Regions from separate parts of the Homo sapiens genome. Here region 1 is linked to region 2. The links come from fine-mapping of genetic effects on gene expression. A gene starts in region 2. The other region holds a variant in brackets. All regions are shown on one strand. Distances are from middle to middle. Region 1 overlaps NTNG1 (netrin G1). Region 2 holds the start of NTNG1 (netrin G1).

Evidence for each region. PIP is the estimated chance that this variant, and not a neighbour inherited with it, causes the effect.
Region 1: its variant is the best candidate, but not a certain one, in a credible set for the expression of NTNG1 in esophagus muscle (GTEx, PIP 0.71).

Annotation. Positions count from the first base shown.
Region 1 is chr1:107,196,471-107,200,470 of GRCh38, reverse strand. All of the region lies in intron 2 of NTNG1 (netrin G1), which reads right to left. Among named protein-coding and RNA genes, the nearest start is that of NTNG1, 57 kb to the right of the region's middle. RefSeq lists a silencer at 3,271-3,320. The variant T/C (reference allele first, on the strand shown) is at 2,031.
Region 2 is chr1:107,138,503-107,143,034 of GRCh38, reverse strand. It overlaps NTNG1 (netrin G1), which reads right to left and starts at 1,996. Exons shown (of 8, transcript NM_001113226.3): 1 at 1,895-1,996. RefSeq lists silencers at 1,302-1,581, 1,602-1,891 and an enhancer at 1,825-2,356.

The DNA.
Region 1 (4,000 bases), 58 kb before region 2:
CATGAAAACATTATGAAAGACTCAAAAAGAAACTCAAGACACTGTGATCAAGAGAACACAGACTGTTTAAGTTCAACCACAGACCATATGATTAGTTGATATGCTACCAAGTATCACTAATATGTTATTTTGTTATTAACAAGAAATGTTATATAACAAGAAACATGTTATTTTGAAATGGAGGGTGCCAGGATTATCTTTGCCACTCTTGTACTTACCTAACAAAGAGTGAATGACCAAAAGAATGTTTATGAATGACTAAATGAATGAATGTTAATATTAGTAGCTAACCACAGAGCCCACCCTAATGTATCAGTCAGAGATTATGGTGAAAGAAAGGAATGGTTACAAAAGCAGTATCCAAGAATCTGGCATTGTCACTAGAGTACATATCTGGCTAAAGAAGGAACAAATCATAGTACTTGTCATGTCTAGTACTTCTAACAAATTGAGAGAAAACCCCATGATTCCATGAAGATCAAAAACTGGTGCTGAAAGATTCTAGATAAAAGCATCACTGCTTCATAGAAACTAAACAAACAAATCCTGGTCCAGAAGGTTACTGATTGATAAAAAGGATTATCACAAAGACATTGAGTAAGCCAAGAGGATTTGTATTTTTTAAGGATGACAATGGATTTCTTAGGGATATTCCATTATAGCTTCCACTGAAATAGTCACTTTACTTTAAGAGGACCAGAGTTGGGTCTCTGAATTAATTATGGTAATTTTGAAGTATCTACGCGAGAGGAGGACTGTGTGTATGAATAAGTAAGTGTCACTTAGTAACATTTTCTGATGAATAAATCAGTTTAAAATTGGAAATCTGTGTCCTCTGGTAATTTCTTCTAAGCCTTCTTTCCTGTGAAATCGCTTTTCAGAATTAACACATCTAGAAGACATTCATTAAACATTTGTTGAATGGATGAATTTTGATGTGACATTGAGATAATACTTAGTATTACTATAAAGTAGTATCCAGTACATATTTTTAATAAGCAAATGTTTTGCAATGATTATAGGACTGCAATACAATTTAATACTCGTGTAGAAGTTACAAAGATATAGATCTACAGTGAGCTAAGGTTGTGCTTCACATATTCAGAAGTCTCACTATAGCATTTTTTTTATGGCCTAAATACAACATATGTAATGTGTGCCAAATTCCAGAATTAGGAATAGAAAAAAAAAAGAAGTAATAAAATTGGTGAAGAGATCTGGCTACATGAGAATACATAAAAGAATTAAGAAAACTGGGGAGATAACTGAAGGTAATAAAATCATAAAATGATATATAGAATATATGGTATTATTAAGAAGACCTTGGCCTACTAAAAGAAGGGTGCACTTTTAAAATCTTGAGTTTATTTTAGCACTATATCAAGAAATTTCAACTTTTCAAAGTGAGAAATAATTTCTGTAACTCATTGTTGACTAGAAAATTTCAAAAAAAAAATAGCAATTTCAGAAGAAACTAAATAATAAATTGCTGCACAGGAGATTCATGGGAAGCATAAAATATTTCGGTGTCTCATTCCTAATATCTTTAAGTCAAAATCAGTTGTCCCCAGAATATAGCCCGTTGCTCCATTAATAGAGACAGAATACAGGACTAAACACTCCATGAGCCAAGTTTGCAGGGGATTTGGAAAGCCTGCGTGTGATATCAAGTCAAACAATTTTAGAGCCAAACGCCCTATGAAACCACACAGTGCAATGTTCTCATTTTACATAATGAGAAAACTGAGACCCAAAGAGATTAAGTATCTTGCCTGAGGTCACACAACTAACAAAAGGCAGAAACTTGCTAGAATCTAGACTCCCTGAGTCCCCAGTTCTAAGTTCTTTCTCTTACATGTTTACTCTCCCCAAAACACAAAAATACGAAGGGGAACAAAAGAAGCAGACACACAAGTACTGAACTTTTGGACAAATATTATTTCTCCCCACTAAAGATGGGCATTAAAATCTTTGATTTCCTGTGATGTAATTTTATTTTGTCTTTGTATAAGCAGACTAGAGTTTGGAGA[T/C]AAGGATACAGTTTTTACTGTTCTGGAAAATTTCAAGCATATACAAAAGTAGACAGCATAGTATAATGAAACTGTCATGTACTCACTATCCACCTTCAGTAATTATCTCAATAGTAATCTTGTTTGATCCATTCCCTACTTAATCCTGTCTCCTTCCACAATATAATTTTGAAGTCAAGCCAAGAGCACATCCATAAGTATATCAGTATGTGTCTCTAAATGTAACTACAACACCATTATCACACCTAAAGAATGAAACATCATTCTTTTCCAACACCGTTAAAGTCACTGTTTAAATTTCCAATTGTCCCGTTGGTGTCACATTATTTAGAATTTGTTCTGAAGCAAGAACATTTTAAATTTTACTGAAATATTGAAAATGCAGAATATCTAAATAAGCTGTAGTGATGAAAGTTACACTAGAATCTACCTTTGACATTGCACCTCAAAGAATAGGAAAAAAATGTGCATTATCATAAGGGCCTGGGAATAGGATCATTATTTTTGTATAATCACATTAAGTGACCCAATTTAATGCATAGAAAATTATGTGAATAGAGATGAGCTTATGATTTAAAATAACAGTGGCCAGGTGGATGGCAATGTTTACACACCATGGTGCACCAGATTATCAATTATATCCATACATCCAAATGATCCTGGGCAAGGTGCCACACAGAGAAAGAAAAATGGATCCTACTCTGTCACTACGTGAATGTGTATTCTAATGTCATGGCAGGGATTAGATAGGGAGCACCATAGGGGAAACACTGTAGGGAAAACCAGTGGAGCCTGAAGACAGAGGGCCAAAATCTCATCCAAGCCAGAATGTAGTCCTGCACAAATCTGTTGAACTCTCTGAGTGTCGCCTTATCAGCATAAAAAGAGTAGCCAAGGTGGCATCTGAAGACCCTTCCATATCTAACACTCAATGGGTCTAAATATTGTCAACCCATTCTTATATAATATGCAGAACTTCAAAGATATCATTTCATTATGAAACTAAATGTTGAAAAATTGCTTCATCTGCCACACAGTTTCTAAAGAACAAAATTCCAAAGTATTGACGTTTGCCATTTCTCATTAGATTGTGTCTAATGAGAAGGCTCGGTGACACTGTAATTGGCTGTTGTAGAGGGCAGCATTTGGGAGTGGCAGTAAGCCAGCAGAGACCTACCTAGTTTCAGCACAGCTGACCCTTGTAACTAAGGCTGCAGAACTAATCAGACCGCATTTCCTGTGTCACAAGCCTAAGGGTATCATACAGACATATACAGCGCCCCCTGTAGGTTGGTCAGATTAAGCAACTAAAAGTACTGCATGCTCAGTTAAAATGTTTCACATAAACAATAAATAGTTTTACACTAAACTTTTATACGCTAAAACTTGTATAACAACCATATTCATTGTTTACAATGAATTCAAACTTAACTGGTTGTCCTGTATTTTATTTGGTAACCCTAACCCCAACATGCATGCACGTGCGCACACACACACACCCGCCCGAGAATGACAAGGTTTTCATAGGCTCTTAGTCTGACACTATTATAGAAAAATATGACATTAGAGCTGATATTTGGGAGAATGCACATACAGTCCTGAAAGACACAGATCATCCATAATTAGAATAAAATATTTTTATCTTTATTTTATCTAAAATTTAAAATGCATATTGATATTGGCAGGTAGAACTCTTCTTTTCTACCCAACATACTTAGTTTATTAATAAAACTCATAACAGTTTTTCCATAGAGAAACTAGTTTCCCTTTGACAAACAGTTCTTGCCTGGGTGTTATGTTGTCATCATTTACTGTACTCCTCACAGGAAGTTGAAGCAGAGAAAGGTTGTGTTATTTTTTCAAAGGCACACATCTATCAAAGAGCAGAATTAAACAGAAGACAGGACCCAAGGACTCCGAGTCCATCCCACTACTTCCCACGATCTACTTTCCTCAACTTCCATGGGATA
Region 2 (4,532 bases):
ATGCACATTTTTCCTTGCATGTTGATCCACATGCAGAGATCCAAATTTTATCTTAATGAAAAATCGAAAGTTGCTTATCTTCAAAAAGAATCTTGGACAGTTACTGAGCTGCTTTTCCTTTGCCAAAGAGAAAGGGAGGCGGGTAAGGCATTCAAAGTGACACAGTTCAAAATACTTAATGAAATGTGGAATTGCTAATTCCCTCACTAGAGATCCTCCTCAAGGGACAAACAAAACAGAAAAGCCTCCCCTGAAAAAAAAAAAAATTATTTTTTGGAAAACTTTCCAACAAGCTTAACTACTAAGCATATCTGAATAAGTGATTTTAATGGAAGATCTTCCTGGGTTTTTTTTTTTTTCATTTCTGTAAGATAAAACAACTTTTAGTATTTTCAGTCATAAAACAGGGCCTTATTTCTAGAGCAATTCTACTGCCAGATTCACCATATGTTTAGTGGAGTTCTGAATCTTACTCAGAATTTTCCATTCCAAAGATTGACAATTTGTTATGAGGAGTGGCTCCATTATTCCCTGTATAAAGAGAAGAATGGGTGAGAGAGGAGGACCGTCTACTCACTGGAAATCTGTACCTGATGCAACTATAGGAGCTCAACCTGCGACTTTTCCAAGTAAAGTTGCTTTAAAATCCCCGCTAGGAATTTTCTTCCCTTGCCCTGTAAGATGACAGCCTACTCTTAAGTGGATTTCTGAAGGAAAAAAAAAAAAAGTCCCCGGGTGAGGGTACTAAAATTAACAGCAGAGGGCGCAGTTTCTTTTTATATCTAAGTTTTTCCTTGTATGAATCACTTAATTGGTTATTTTAGGCCCAATAATATTCAGTATTATTTGTATTATATATAGATATCCACAGATCCATACAGGAGTGCAATTCAGTGTCCCTAGCCGAATCCATCAACCGATTAATATGATGCCAGTAAAGAATATGAGAGAATATTCCAAACAGCATCCCTACACCAAGTCTTCCTCTTTCAATTTCCCTTTCTCCCCAGCTGCACAACATGGGATAGTAATGTTTTAATCTAGCACCAATAAAGGCGATTAAAAGAAGGGACTTCAAAAGCTCTCGATGTGGCCACCAGATCCCCAAGGCCGGCAATAGGGCAAGTGTTTTTTTGTTTTTTTTGTTTGCTTTTCCCCAAACAAATATAATTGGCGAAAGAAAGAAAAAATAACGACAAGCCGCCTGAGCGATGTGTGTGGCCAGGTGTGCGTGAGAGAGGGAGAGCGCGGGGCCCCTGTCAGTCGGCGGATGGAGGCTCAGACCCCACGCCTGGGCTCCGGACACAACAAGAGGACGCATCACCGGCCCGGGGCGCACCCCCGGGAAGACTTGTGTGTGGGTGTGAGCGTGTGCCGCTGTGTGTGCGCGTAGGGCTCCGCGCGCTGCCTCCTCGGGGCGCTTTACAAAGTTCCTCGCCCACCCGGAGCCTTCCCTCCCGCCTGTGCATCGCAGCGGGTGGGGCGGGGGGCGGCGGGGGGTGGGGAAACCCGGGGGAGAGGGGCACGGGCGAGAGGCTCGGGTCGCAGTAGGAGAGGCGAGCCGCAGGCACTTACCGTGTGGCTCGTTTGCCCTTGCGCCGGGCGGGAGCCGAGCCGACGGCGCGGGGCGGCGGCCCTGCGCAGCCAGCCTGGTCCGCCTCGGGCGGCGGCCGCAGCAGCGGAGCCCGCGGGCGGCGTACGGGCGGAGGGCGGCAGCTCCCGCGGAGCCTCCTCCCCAGGCGGGAGCGGGCGGAGCGGGAGGGGTGGGCGTGAGGACCCGAGCCGCCGCCACCGCCGCAGCCCGGGGATTCCGATCGCGCCCGGCCGCCGGCGGGAGAGGACCCCGAGGACCGAGAACCCAGCGCCGGCCCGCCACTCCCCGCCGCTTAATTACCTTCGCCTCCGCCCCCGGGGGGAGCCTCCTGCAAGTCGCCCCCTCTCGGAGCCCGCACCCAGAGGGGGAATTCCTTCCCGTTGACGTCCTCTTCCGAAATGCAAAAGATCAGTGACTTTGACAGGTAGATGAGGGGGAGGGAGTAAGGGTGGGCGGAGAGGAAGAGAGGATGAGAAAGGTGCCTCTCCCTCCAAAAATATAGTGATATTAATAATGAGATCTCAGCCTTCGGAGGTCGTGCCAGCCCAGTCCCCTGCTCGCCGGCTCTCCTCCGCGCCTCCTCGCTCCGCTGCCTCTGACACTTCTCGCCTTAAACTTTTACTGAGGGATATTTTTTCTTTTTTCTATTTCTATTTCTTTTTTTTTTCCTCTTTTTTTTTTTTTCAAGCCGCAGGACGATTTTCTGGTTCCCGGGGATCAGAACCAGCGGCCAGGCGGTTCTATGCCGCTTGGCACCGCTTTCATTTTATTTCAGATGAAGACGTTGAGCTTAGTCAGAAGGGGCATAAATCAGGACAATTAGCATTGGCGCCAAGAAGATCCTCTAATACCAATTTCGCCCGGGTTTCCTTCGCGCATTCCTCCACTCAAGTCAGAAATGTCACTGCACATAGCACTGATGGCAGTGAGACGCGACGCACCCAAAGTCCGTTTGATGAAATATACATGGCCCACGACGCTTCTGGATTGCGGCTCCCGGACTCCCCGCCCCCACCAGCGGCTCCCGGCCGGGACCCTGCTCCGAGCGGGCAGCGAGCTCCTGGCAAACTTAGGGGCCAGTGCCAATTAAAGAGTGAGCGCGAGAGCCGGAAAGAGGAGCGGCAAAGAAGCAAGCCCGGGGAAGCCGCAGCCCTCGGAGGGGTGGCATGTACGTTTCACTTAAAAAGCAGATCTTCTTCTGCAACTGCCAGCAAGTGGAAGGATAGCAAACCTTATACTACCTCGAGACCTGTGCGCTCCGAGCGGTCCTAACTCCGTCCCGCTCGCTGTTGCTGTTGCTGGTGCTGCTCCGGCTGCAGCTGCTGCCGCTCCACGACCTCGGGGCGCTGAGGCAACAGGGCCCCCTCCCTCTACTCCCCATCCCCCCCGGCTCCTCCACAGAAGCGCCGTTTCCAGTAACTCCTCGTGTACCTCCCACTTCTGCCGCCGTCCATCCCACCCCTCTCTCTTCTGTCCCCTCCCCAAACCGTTCCCAAGCACACCCTTCGCCGCTGGAAGTGATCACAATGTTGTTTTTCAACAAGCACTTCCTTTGCCCGGAGGCCCCTACAGCCCTAGACTGGAAACTCCTCCTTTAGAAATTCATTCCCCTTTAAAAAGTTGAAGTTCAAGGGAGAGCTGCGCATTTCAGGCTTCCTTGCCTTTTCTAAGAGAAAGACAAATGCTCCGATGCTCCAGGCTTCATTCCCCACCAAGGCGGGCTCAGACTCACCTGGGATCACTCTTAGCTACACATTAACGTCAAACAGAAACAAATCCGAATTTAGATAAGATAGGGAGACTTCCATTAGAAAGAAAGACTATTGCAACAGGGAAAACGCTCTGATCTCAGAAATCTGCAAACCTCTCAAAACCAAACAGAAATCGGCCTTTTTTTTCTATATATATAAGGGGGAGCAAGCAATAGGCAAAGCCAAGTGGATGGGGGAAACAACTCACTTCAAGACCCTCTTGGTTGAACAAGAAATGTGTCTCTGTGGTCCAAGAATTTGGAAGATAAGCTAACAATGGTGAATGTTTCACATTTTAGTTCTTGCTCAGATTTGGGGGGCAAGCTAAATTCCAGGGACCTGCTGGAGAGAAGCCTGACTCATGTTTGGTCAAGGCAAAGTGGCGGGTGGGGGGGGGGTGGAAGAAATGGGCAATTGTGAACACTTAGTCACTATGTGTCCCACAATTAAGGCAGGAGGCTGAGTAATTGGGTCATTTTTCTGTGATGACTGGGGGTGGTGTGGTAAAAGGATGGATGGGGGAGAAGTTTGTTGAGTTGGGCCTATAACCAGGCCCTCCTTGGCCCTGGGCAGCCAGGAAGTGGGCAGGGATTTCAGGCACCCCCAGCCTTCCCTCTAACACCTAAGAGGCCACAATAAGTCGCCTTCGGAATCTCTGAGTGCAGGAATCTGGGATTCATGTGCTTTCCTCTTTCCCACCTTTGTCCTGTAGTGCTGACATTGCAAAAAAGAGTTACCTGCAGGGCTGAAACTCCTACCAAGGGTTCTTAGACAGTGGCCAAGTCTGGCTCTTCCCCCTGTCTCTAGCCATGCTCCTCCAGGTTTAAAACATACTGACTATATGGAGATGTTACTCACCACCTAATCCTCCTTCACAGGCCCTTAGATCCCAGTTCTTTCTATGGGAGCCCTTTGCAATAGGATATAATAAACAATACCAAGAGTGGCCTTCTTATTTCTCGTTGGCCCCTTGGCCTAGATCCTGAAATACAGACAGTTCTCAGCCTTTCCTCTCTCTTGCCCTTCTCTCTCAAGCCAAGAAAGCCTTTCTGAACTCTCATCCTCTGCTTTATCTGGTCATTTAAGGCCCTTCTGTAGTAAAAATAAAATAAATCTATGCAGAGATTAGAGAACTCTCTTCTGGAATATACCAAGATCTTTGTGATTTTGGCTCCCAACCTGGAAAA